Homo sapiens: one gene and its partners. The protein of the gene in region 1 purifies or fractionates together with the protein of each later gene. This does not show direct contact. Each region holds a gene or a part of one and is shown in the gene's direction. Other genes may lie near its edges. The genes, in order: TDG, ZNF384 and KDM6B.

The links.
Region 2: the proteins of TDG (region 1) and ZNF384 fractionate together in Homo sapiens (co-fractionation; one large-scale study listed by BioGRID). This does not show direct contact.
Region 3: the proteins of TDG (region 1) and KDM6B purify together in Homo sapiens (affinity purification with western blotting, with the first as the bait; one study listed by BioGRID). This does not show direct contact.

Annotation. Positions count from the first base shown.
Region 1 is NC_000012.12:103,972,372-103,975,871, forward strand, and holds part of TDG (G/T mismatch-specific thymine DNA glycosylase), read left to right. Parts: exon of another isoform or gene 1-651; coding exon of another isoform or gene 652-662; intron 663-3,500. UniProt on the Homo sapiens protein: DNA glycosylase that plays a key role in active DNA demethylation: specifically recognizes and binds 5-formylcytosine (5fC) and 5-carboxylcytosine (5caC) in the context of CpG sites and mediates their excision through base-excision repair (BER) to install an unmethylated cytosine.
Region 2 is NC_000012.12:6,682,816-6,686,539, reverse strand, and holds part of ZNF384 (zinc finger protein 384), read left to right. Parts: intron 1-1,224; exon of another isoform or gene 1,225-1,342; intron 1,343-3,724. UniProt on the Homo sapiens protein: Transcription factor that binds the consensus DNA sequence [GC]AAAAA. Seems to bind and regulate the promoters of MMP1, MMP3, MMP7 and COL1A1.
Region 3 is NC_000017.11:7,840,512-7,844,235, forward strand, and holds part of KDM6B (lysine-specific demethylase 6B), read left to right. Parts: intron 1-3,127; coding exon of another isoform or gene 3,128-3,353; intron 3,354-3,724. Other genes in the region: translation initiation factor IF-2, read right to left, coding at 3,128-3,353. UniProt on the Homo sapiens protein: Histone demethylase that specifically demethylates 'Lys-27' of histone H3, thereby playing a central role in histone code. Demethylates trimethylated and dimethylated H3 'Lys-27'.

The DNA of each region.
Region 1 (3,500 bases):
CTCCCAAAGTGCTGGGATTACAGGCGTGAGCCACTGTTTCCGGCCAGTTATCCAGAACTGTTTAGTTAACTAGCATTCAAGTTTATGAAGATTTTTGTGTAGATGTAATGCTTGCTTCTGCCAAGGAATAAGAATGTTGTAATCCACCATCTTTTATTCTGGCTTTTAGGCAGCTGTTGAGGTAAACAAACTAAGTTTAATGCTCGAAGATAGTGTATTCCTCAGAACTAACACATTTGATTTTCCATAGGTTTATTTTCCTTTACCTGTTCTAATTTAACTTTTTGTAAAATGCCACAGTCCATTTTTAGAAAGATTAAGGGATATTTCATTATTATAGATAAGTTTCTAGGTTTCTTTCAAACTTGATATACCTAATATAAAAGTTCAGATTATTTTTCCTCTTTATTTTTCACTTTTTATTCAGCCAACTGTGATTTCTAGAATTTTGATTTTCAGCTTCTGAACCCCAGAATTTCTGAAGATGATTAATGACCTCCGACTATACTAAAAGTTTTGAAAAATTTTTTTAAAGTAAAGAATCCTGTTGTAATGTGAACGGTGTCTCCCTAATTTATGTATTTTCAGTTTGCATTTTCATGAAGTGCTCAAAATGGGACATGTGAAATTCTGAGAGTAGTAGTAAGAAACATGGGAGAGTGGTAGGTAGATTGCCTTCCTGACCATGTGACAGAGTAAAAACACGTTTCATACATTTTTTTTTTTTTTTGAGACGGAGTTTCGCTCTTGTTGTCCAGGCTGGAGTGCAATGGCATCATCTCGGCTCACCACAACCTCCACCTCCTGGGTTCAAGCGATTCTCCTACCTCAGCATCCTGAACTAGCTGGGATTACAGGCATGCGCCACCACACCCAGCTAATTTTGTGTTTTTAGTAGAGACAGGGTTTCTGCATGTTGGTCGGGCTGGTCTTGAACTCCTGACCTCAGGTGATCCGCCCGCCTTGACCTCCCAAAGCGCCGAGATTACAGGCGTGAGCCACTGCACCCAGCCACATCTCATGCATTCTTTTGCTCGCTCATTTATTGTCACCATATGCCTTTGTTTCTATATATTCAAGCTAAATCAAGGTGCTATTAGAATCTCGGGAAGCTGCCGCTGACCACAGTCAGAACTTGCAGTTTCTTTAGTTAGAATTGCCATAGGACCACTGCTCAAGACTTCCAGATCTAACCTAGCCATATCCAACTCATCATTAGAATATTTAAATCATGAATGTTGAACAACCAATATTTTAACAATTTATTGCATAGAGCTACTAATAATATTAAATAAAACTATGGAAAAAAAGGACATTTTACTTTGTGCCAGGTATGCTTCTAAGCATAGTTCTACATCTTAACTTCTAGTCCCTGTCTACATATTTTCCCTTATGTGTAGCCTTAGTTATACTATTTTGTATTCTTTTCTGTTTTAAAATATATATAAACTCTTTCCTGTTCTTTTACATAAGATAAATAAACTTAATTTTTTAGCTGCATAGTATTTTCTCATGTTAATGTATTGTAGTTTACTAAGTCATAACTTTATTTTTATTTAATTTGTGAACAATAAAAGAAATAAAACTCTTATGATACAGGTTAATCTCTTTCTCACTCATTCTTAATCTTTGCTTTACCAACCTACCCTTAAAGATAGCTGGAAGTGGAAATGCCTCTCCAGTGGTTTGTCCATTGGGATTGGGCTTCTGTTTATCTTGAGCTGCCAACATTTAGCCCAGCCGCTGGGGGTGGTCTGTTATCCTTTGTTTCCCCAGGCCATTTAAGCTTATCCAGGAAATGCTTTAGTTTGCCTTTTTTTTTTCCTGTTAACCATTTTATTGAGATATGATTTACATACTACATAGTTCATCCATTTAAAGTGTACTCATTTGCCCTCTTTTGTTGTTGTTGTTGTTGTTATTGAGGCAGAGTCTCGTTCTGTCCCCCAGGCTGGGGTGCAGCAGTGTGATCATCGCTCACTGTAACCTTGAACTCCTAGACTCAGGCAATCCTCCTGCCTCACCCTCCTGAGCAGCTGGGGCTGTCAGCATGTACCACCATGCCCAGCTAATGTTTTAAAATTTTTTTGTGGAGGTGGCGATCTTGCTATATTGCCCCGGCCACTCTTGAATTCCTGGCCTCAAGTGATCCTCCCGCCTTGCCCTCCCAAAGCACTAGGATTACAGACATAAGCCACCGTGCCTGGCCTCATTTCCCTTTTTAATCTGCTTTCTGAGCTTCCTGTTCTCTTTCAATGAATATCATAGAGAATGAAAACTGATTAGTATAGTATCTTGCAGTAGAAAACATGACTTTCGCTGGGCGCGGTGGCTCATGCCTATAATCCCAGCACTTTGGGAGGCTGAGGCGGGTGGATCGCGAGGTCAGGAGATTGAGACCATCCTGGCTAACACGGTGAAACCCTGTCTCTACTAAAAATATAAAAAAAAATTAGCTGGGTGTGGTGGTGGGGGCGCCTGTAGTCCCAGCTACTCGGGAGGCTGAGGCAGGAGAATGGCGTGAACCCGGGAGGCGGAGCTTGCAGTGAGCCAAGATCGCGCCACCACACTCCAGCCTGGGCGACAGGGCGAGACTCCGTCTCAAAAAAAAAAAAAAAAAAAGAAAAAGAAAAAGAAAACATGACTTTCCTCTCCAAATAGTAAAGCAAACTTTTCCATTTTATTTTCTACTGTTTTTCTTCTCCTGCCTATTTAATGGCATTATTTGGCATTTGCTGTAACTTGAGTTTCATCAAATATGTGTTTACTTCTCTGGTTTTATGCTAACAGCAACACCATGAGATAGTGGTTTAAGGCCATGAGAAGTATTTTTTTTAATTGTTTTCTTTGAAAGCCCACATTGTTTCCTTTGAACAGAATACTTTGAACAAAATTTAAATCGTGTTCAGAAGAGAGGTTTAGAGGTTTTTTCCTTCATAAATTCAACACATGTTTACAAAATATCCATTTCATGTTTCTCTTTAGTGACTGAATCTATTTTGTGTTGCTGTTTCAGAATGCCATAGACTGGGCAATTAATAAACAGTAGAGGTTTTTTTGGCTCCTACTTCTGGAGCCTGGGAAGTCCAAGATGGAGGGGCTACATCTGATGAGGGGCTTCTTGCTGCGTCATAAAATGGCAGAAGGAATCACACAGTGAGGCAGCACTTGTGACAGAGAGATAGGAAAGGGAGTTGAACTCATCCACTCATCGTGTTATCAGGAACCCTCTCCTGTGATAATAGCATTAACCCACTCCTGAAGGCAGAGCCCTCCTCTTGACCTAATCACCATTTTTTTTTTCTTTTGAGACAGAATCTTGCTCTGTCACCCAGGCTGGAGTGCAGTGGTACAATCTCAGCTCACTTAAACCTCCACCTTCCAGGCTCAAACAGTTCTCCTGCCTCAGCCTCCCAAGTATCTGGGACTTCAGGTGCATGCCACTGTGCCCGGCTAATTTTTATATTTTTAGTAGAGGCGGGGTTTTGCCATGTTGGTCA
Region 2 (3,724 bases), about 97 Mb from region 1:
GCTTACGCCTGTAATCTCAGCACTTTGGGAGGCTGAGGAGAGCGGATCACCTGAGGTCAGAAGTTCAAGACCAGCCTGGCCAACATAGCAAAATCCCGTCTCTACTAGAAATACAAAAATTATCCAGATGTGTTGGCAAGCGCCTGTAATCCCAGCTACTTGGGAGGCTGAGGCAGGAGAATTGCTTGAACCCAGGAGGTGGAGGTTGCAGTGAGCTGAGATCACGCCATTACACTTCAGCCTGGGCAACAAAATGAGACTCTGTCTCATAAAAAAAGAATTCAGAAGTCTTGATTCCCAAGGCCATTCTCTAGCTACTGAACTTGATGAGTGTATTTCATGGTTTTCTAAGGGTTGGTTGTGTTAAGGGAATGCTGTTTTCTTGGGGAAAGAAAATCATGCTTTATTTGAAAAAACAACAGTAAAAAAACAATTAGTGGGTTCTGGGAAAGAGATGGTGGTCTTCACCATATCTGCCAAAAACACCTGCTGGAGGCCATGTCATCTTTATCCCTGGATGGTTGGTAGCATTACGGAAGGATGTGGTCAGATAGACAAAGCTCTGGGCCAAGAGTTCAAGTCCTACCGTGTTTCACGACTATTATTAATACTTGATAGTGTCTCTCTTCTTTATCTCCTGAGGGCTTCTGAGATTTGAGATTGGAGAAGGAATATGTAGTTCCTTGTGTCTCTTAAGAGAAAATTACTCTCCAACTTAATTAGAGTAAACCTGCCTTCTTTTTTTTTTTTTTTTTTTTTTTTTGAGACTGAGTCTCGCTCTGTCGCCCAGGCTGGAGTGCAGTGGTCTGATCTCCTTTCACTGCAACCTCCACTCCACCTCCCAGGTTCAGGCAATTCCCTGTCTCAGCCTCCTGAGTAGTTGGGATTACAGGCGCATGCCACCATGCCCAGCTAATTTTTTGTATTTTAGTAGAGATGGGATTTCACCATGTTGCCCAGGCTGGTCTTGAACTCCTAAGCTCAGGCAGTCCACCTGCCTCGGCCTCCCAAAGTGCTAGGATTACAGGTGTGAGCCACCTCGCCCAGCAGTAAACCTCCCTTCCTATTAACAGAACAGTTGAGGCTTGGTGCAATAGTAAAGTTGATATGAGAACCCAGATTTTCAGCCTGCCAGCATTTTTCTTTCCACCAAATTATATCTTTCCTTCTCTTCTGTTTTTTCTTTCCTTTCTATTTCTTTTTCTTTTTTTCTTTTTGAGACAGGGTCTCACTCTTTTGGCCAGACTGGAGTGCAGTGGCGTGATAATGGCTGACTGCAGCCTCGACTTCCTGGGCTCAAGCAATCCTCCTGCCTCAGCCTCCCAAGTAACTGGGACTACAGGTGTGAGCCACCATGCCCGGCTACTTTTTTAATTTTTTGTAGATACAGGGTCTCCCTATTTTGCCCAGACTGTTCTTGAATTCCTGGGCTCAAGTGATTCTCTTACTTTGGCCTCCCAAAGTACTTTCTTTAAATATATAGGCATAATCATTAAAATTGGCACTCTCTGTGTAGACATGAGTTTTCTGTGTAACATCAGTGGGCTTCTTTGGGTGATAAGAATGTTGATATGTGCCTGATTGAATGTTGGGATGATTTGGAGAAATTTCCTCCACGAAAGATAGAGTAAGCGGTAAAACAGACAGTAAGCAGATATTTGAGTGATCTGGCCCCAGAACGCCCTGTTACACAACTCTAGGGGGCGCCATTTACATTGTATTCTAGCAATAGTTTTGATTCTTAGCTCTCCATTGATCTCATTTCAGGAGTACAAAGATGAAGTCAGCCTCATCAGTAGCACAGTGGCATAGCATTTCTCAGGTGTCATTTTGCTGGTAAAGGTTGCTTATAGTTGGATGAGCAGTTCTCTCTGTGGTCTCCCTTTTGGGCTGACCTATTTATCGGAAGCTGGTAACGCATATGTAGTGTCTTGTCCTTGGACCAGACACACCAGTTTATTGGATGCAATAAACTAGGCATCCAAGTAAGTGGAGGGGCTTTTTATTTATTTTCCTTTGTAAAGTCCGGCCTCTTTATTCAGGCTCTGTCATCCTAAAGTAAGTTATCTTGGTAGCTAAGTGAGGTTTCACAGAATAAGGAATATGACCTTGAACTGCATGTCATTTTGCTGTTATCAAAAACTTCAATTTTGAAAACATTTTTTGAGAACTAGCTGGAAAATAGTTCATTCCTGGAAATATTCTAAATTTTATTTCCTGGATCAAGCCATAACATCAGAAAGTGTGTACTACAGTTATATGGTTTTGGTTCCTTGTAGAACCCCTTTCCTTAACTTGCCCTTTGGTGCCTGGATTCACATTCCTGCTTTGCTATTTACTGTTGGACTCTGTGCCTCCAGTTTCCTCATTTCAAATGGGAATTACAGTACCTACCTCATTGTTGCAGGGACTAAATGATGTAGTAGTTGTAAAGTGCTTAGAACACTACCTTGAACACAATAAGTGCTTAATAAGTTTTAATGATAATGATAGTGGTGATATTGTCCACCAGTTTTTTTTTTTGAGACGGATTCTCACTCTGTTGCCCAGGCTCGAGTGCAGTGGTGCGATCTTGGCACACTGCAACCTCCACCTCCCAGGTTCAGGTGATTCTCCTTTCTCAGCCTCCTGAATAGCTGGGACTACAGGCGTGCGCCACCATGCCTGGCTAATATTTGTACTTTCAGTAGAGACAAGGTTTCACCATCTTGGCCAGACTGGTCTTGAACTTCTGACCTTGTGATCCACCTGCCTTGGCCTCCCAAAGTGCTGGGATTGCAGGCATGAGCCACCGTGCTCAGCCTCCTCCTTCCTACGTTTTCACATCCATAGTGCATTTACTTTACTTCCTTGATTCTTTTTTTTTTTTTTTTTTTTTGAGACAGGGTCTTGCTCTGTCACCCAGGCTGGACTGTGGTGGTGCAATCTCGACTTACTGCACTCAGGTGATTCTCCTGCCTCAGCCTCCCAAGTAGCTGGGACTACAGGTGTGTGCCACCACACCTTGCTAATTTTTGTATTTTTATTAGAGATGGGGTTTTGCCGTGTTGGCCAGGGTGATCTTGAACTCCTGAGCTCAAGTGACCCACCTACCTCGCCCTCCCAAAGTGTTAGGATTACAGGCATGAGCCACCACACCCAGCCAACTTCCTTGATTCTTTTGGGAAAATTATACATTGGCCCTTTCTTTCGTTTATTCTCCCTCCTAATTATTATTTTTAATCTTTTTTATTTTATTTTATTTTTTTTTTGAGACAGTCTTGCTCTGTTGCCCAGGCTGCAGTGCAGTGGTTAGATCTCGGCTCGCTGCAACCTCCACCTCCTGGGTTCAAGCAATTCTCCTGCCGCAGCCTCCTGAGTAGCTGGGATTACAGGCGTGTGCCACCATGCCTGGCTAATTTTTGTATTTTTAGTAGAGATGGGGTTTCACCATGTTGACCAGGCTGGTCTCAAAGTCCTGACCTCAAGTGATCCACCTGCCTCAGCCTCCCAAAGTGCAGGAATTACAGGCATGAGCCACCACACCCATTCTCTCCATCTTAATTCTCTACTTAATTCCCACCATTTATCACCACTCTTATCTCTTGTCTGTCATTTCTTTCCACTAGAAGGTTAGACAGGGATTATGCATTGAGACTTGAACCCCTAGCATTGTCTGCAAAATCTATATGTAGGTAGTCTACCGTTGTTCAATTCATTAAATATGTAATTGTGTCTTAGGTGA
Region 3 (3,724 bases), on another chromosome or scaffold:
CAGTCCCATTCTCTCCCCACTGCACTATAGCATTTGCCCCCATACCTAAGTCTTACTCTTCTGCTTCCCTCTCTCCTTCTGTCAGTTCTCTGCCTGAGGCCCTGCTTTATTTCCCATTCCTTTGTAGGAGAAAAGGGAAGATAATCCCTAAGCCAGGGGCTTAAGTTCTCTCTGTGTTGTTCTTCCTCATTACATATGGGGTTTCTCGAGTGGGACTGTTTTCTTCTATGTGTCTCTCACTATTTTGCTTGATGTTTTGCACATTGGGGTGCATGGTGGATTTGTGTTGAATAATGTTAACTGAATGAGCTTCATTATGAAGAACCTATGACTTCTGAGATTTGCTGCACAGCCTCCTACTTTATCCTCTAGAGGACGTGAGACATTGGGGATGGTAACATGGGTAGAGCTGAAAGGAAGGTTGACCCAGGAGATGGCCTGTGAGGATAAAACCAAGGGAGGGAGAGTAGGACAGAGGCAGTACATAAGAGTGGTAAGAATGTGGCTCTGGAAAGAAGCCTAGCTCTTTCATTCTTCACTTGCAGAATGACTTTGGCCAAGTCACCTAGCCTCTCTGGGCCTCAATTTCCTCATCTGTAAAATGGGGGTAATCAGAGTACCTCCTATGTCAGGTTTTGGGGAGGAGTAAAAGAAATGCTTGTAAAATACTTAATACAGTGCCTGGCATGTAACAAATATTCACAAAATGCTAGCAGTTATCACCACAGTGGGAGCCACAGGGAGCTCTGAGGATAAGCAGGGATGTCGAGGGATGGGACAGAACTTGATTGAAGGCAGACAGACCTCCAAATTCTTGACTCAGACAGAATGATCACTGATCCAGCGAGACGTCAGGATCGAGAGGAGTGTAGCAAGGAGTCAGGAGGGTGGGCCTGCGCCAGTGTCGCCCCGACTCTGTTCAGTAACATGAAGGCAAACACAGAAGGGCATGTGCGGAGACACACGTGATCACGCTAGTGATGCAGAGGCAGACCCAGACAAAAGACCGAGACAGGAGCTAGGCAGACACACAGACAGAGACAGCCCCGCGGAGTCATGTAGACAGGGATAATGACAGGAACGCGTCAGACACAGGCACAGAGGGAGACAAGATGAGCAGATATGCAGGTGCACGCGGAGACAGACACCGGGACCCACGCACAGCCGACCGTGTCAGACAGACTGGTGAACACAGCGCCCAGTCAGAGGCAGACACAAGGCCTGCAGTGACACATAGCGGGCCGGGGCCGGCACCGTCACTCCTCGGTGGGGGGCGGGGAGGGGCCGGCAGCCGGGGGAAGGCTGGGGAAGGGAATCCCGGGCGGGCGGCCTGCCCGGGTGGCTGAGTCACAGCGGAGCCTCAGCCGGCGGCCCTCCCCTCCGCCTCCCCCTCCCCCAGGTAAGAAGCGAGCGTGTAACCCCTCGCTTCCACCAGGCGTGATGAGGACGGGCAGGGAGCGGGTTGCGACGAGGGTCCTGGACCGCCCCACCTCGGCGCGCGCGCAGCATGCCCGCTGATTGCCGGCTAGGTAAAACCCTATCTGCGGGCTCTTGTCTCTGGCCGTCACGTGAGTTTGCGTGCGCACTTCAGGCCTCTTACCACGCGTCCCGCGCGGCTGCGGCGCTGCGCGGAGGGGCTCCTCGGCTCAAGCCCAGAGAGAGTTAAGTGGGTGTGATTGATGGAGTGTTCTCTCTTGGGGCTCCAGCGGGGGCGGGGGGTAGGGGGTCGGTTAAAGTCCCGAGTCCAGGGCCCGGATGGAGGGGGCGGAGCTGGGCTTCGCCGGGAGTGCCCGGATGGAGAGGGTGTGGCCTCGGCGGGAGCGGAATTAACCCTTTCAGAGCCGCTGGCTCCCGAGGTTGTGGGTCGGGTCGGGAGAGGCTGGAATGTCTGCCTCAGAAGTATATCGATCTCCCAGCCTGGCTCTGGCCGCGTGCGTCTACCTCTCGCCTGTCTTCGAGGAGTCTGTGGGTGTCAGTCTTTGTGCCTGTCCGTGGTTCCCTTCCCTTGGTTAGTATAGACACCGGGAGTCAGGGAGGGCTATTCTTGCCCCAGAGCGAGAGTGGAGGTGAGAGTGGAGCGCGAGCTGGCGGCGACTGGGGAACAGGTGCAAGCGCCGCGTCGGGGCTGCCCGGCACGGGGAGGGGCCATCGTGGGGGAAGACGAGAGGGGAAATTCCGCGGGACCGGTGGTGAGCCGGTGTGTGGGCTGAGGAGTTGTGTCTGCCTCTGACTGTGTGTCTGTGTGTGTTCAGGGAGGCGGGGGCTGAGTCAGTGGGAAGAGGGGAAGGTTTTCTGGGTGACTCACGCTCCCCCACCCCAAGCCTGAATCAGACCCCGAGGGAGGGCTTTGTACGGGGGGCGGGGGGGCGAGTGAGGAGTCCAGCGCCTGGGTCCCGGGTGCGGACAAGGATCCGAGGTGGCTGGCGAGAATGAGTGTGTGTTTAGTGTACAGGAAGTTTTGTCTTCAAGTGAGGGCTTTGTATTCTTGGGTGCTGGCGTGGGGCTTTGTGGATAAAGGTGGAAGAGCAGGGAGCTGGAGGGACGGCACTCACTGACTTAGGGAAAGCTGAGTCAGTTCCCCGTGGGAAAGGGGAAGTGGCAGAGGGGAAGTGTCATCATCGCCGAAGGGGAAGCTGCCTTTCCTGGTAACTGGCGGCGCTCTCGGGACCACTTCCCAAGCAGGCATCTGCCCCTCTGTTGTCTGGTTCCCCGGCTCCCCCTCCACGTCTGGTTCTTGGGTCTCCTCCCCGCCCCTGCCTCGGTACTCGGGTGGGGGCAGTCACGGAGGGCCATACTTGACCACAGTTCAGCGCCGTACCTGGCTTGGTTACTGATGGAAAGGATGCTGCCTCTAGTGAGGAGAGAGTTCTGACAGTAATACCACGTGAACCGCGGAGAGGGTCCGCGGGGCCCAAGCGACCACAAGGGCTTGGCGGAGAGTGGCACGCAGGGACCTGTAGGGTCCAAGCGCTTCCATGCAAACAAACGACCTTGCCCCTTCGGGAAGGAAGGCTCTTTTCACCAGAAACCCGTCTGCCCTTGTGGGCTGGGTGGAAATTTCCCCACAGCGCAGACTTCTCTCAACGAACGCGAACTTTCCAGCCACCCCCAGCCCCTCGTCGCGCACTCTCCCCCGGCTTCCTGCCCGGCGCTCGCTCCAGCTGGAGCGCTGGCCCCGCCCCCGCGGCTTTGTACTCGACACTCGCCTCTCGCTGCTCTTTGTACTCTAGACTCTCAATGGACCGATCCCGGGAGCCGAGTCGGCTCCCTACCTGCGGGGACGCCGGGTAGGCAAGGAGGAGGCGCGGGGACGCAGCTCCTGGGCTCAGAGAGGCGAGAAGGAAGAGCTGGGGCTAAAGGGAAGGTGCCCAAGAGAGGGGAGCGCTGTGCCAGTCGGGGGTCCAGTCGGCACCAAAGCGAAAGGGTGGGGGGGGCGTGAAGGAGGAAGTGAAACGAGTTCTGGGTTCTTTAAGGGAGTGGGTGGTGAGAGTGGGACAAGGGTGATGTCACTGCCTGTCGGGCCCCGCCCTCCTCCCTCCCTCAGGACCCCCCCCCCCGCAGTACATTTACACACACCGCTTCCGCTGCGCAAGTAGCCACGTCACGGGCAACCCCCGAAATCCCCCCTCCCTTGGGGGGCGGGGGCCACGTGGGCCGTGGGGAACCGCGTGGCCCCGGCGGGGAAGGGCAGAGAGGATACGCGAGCCACGAGAGAGGGGCCACT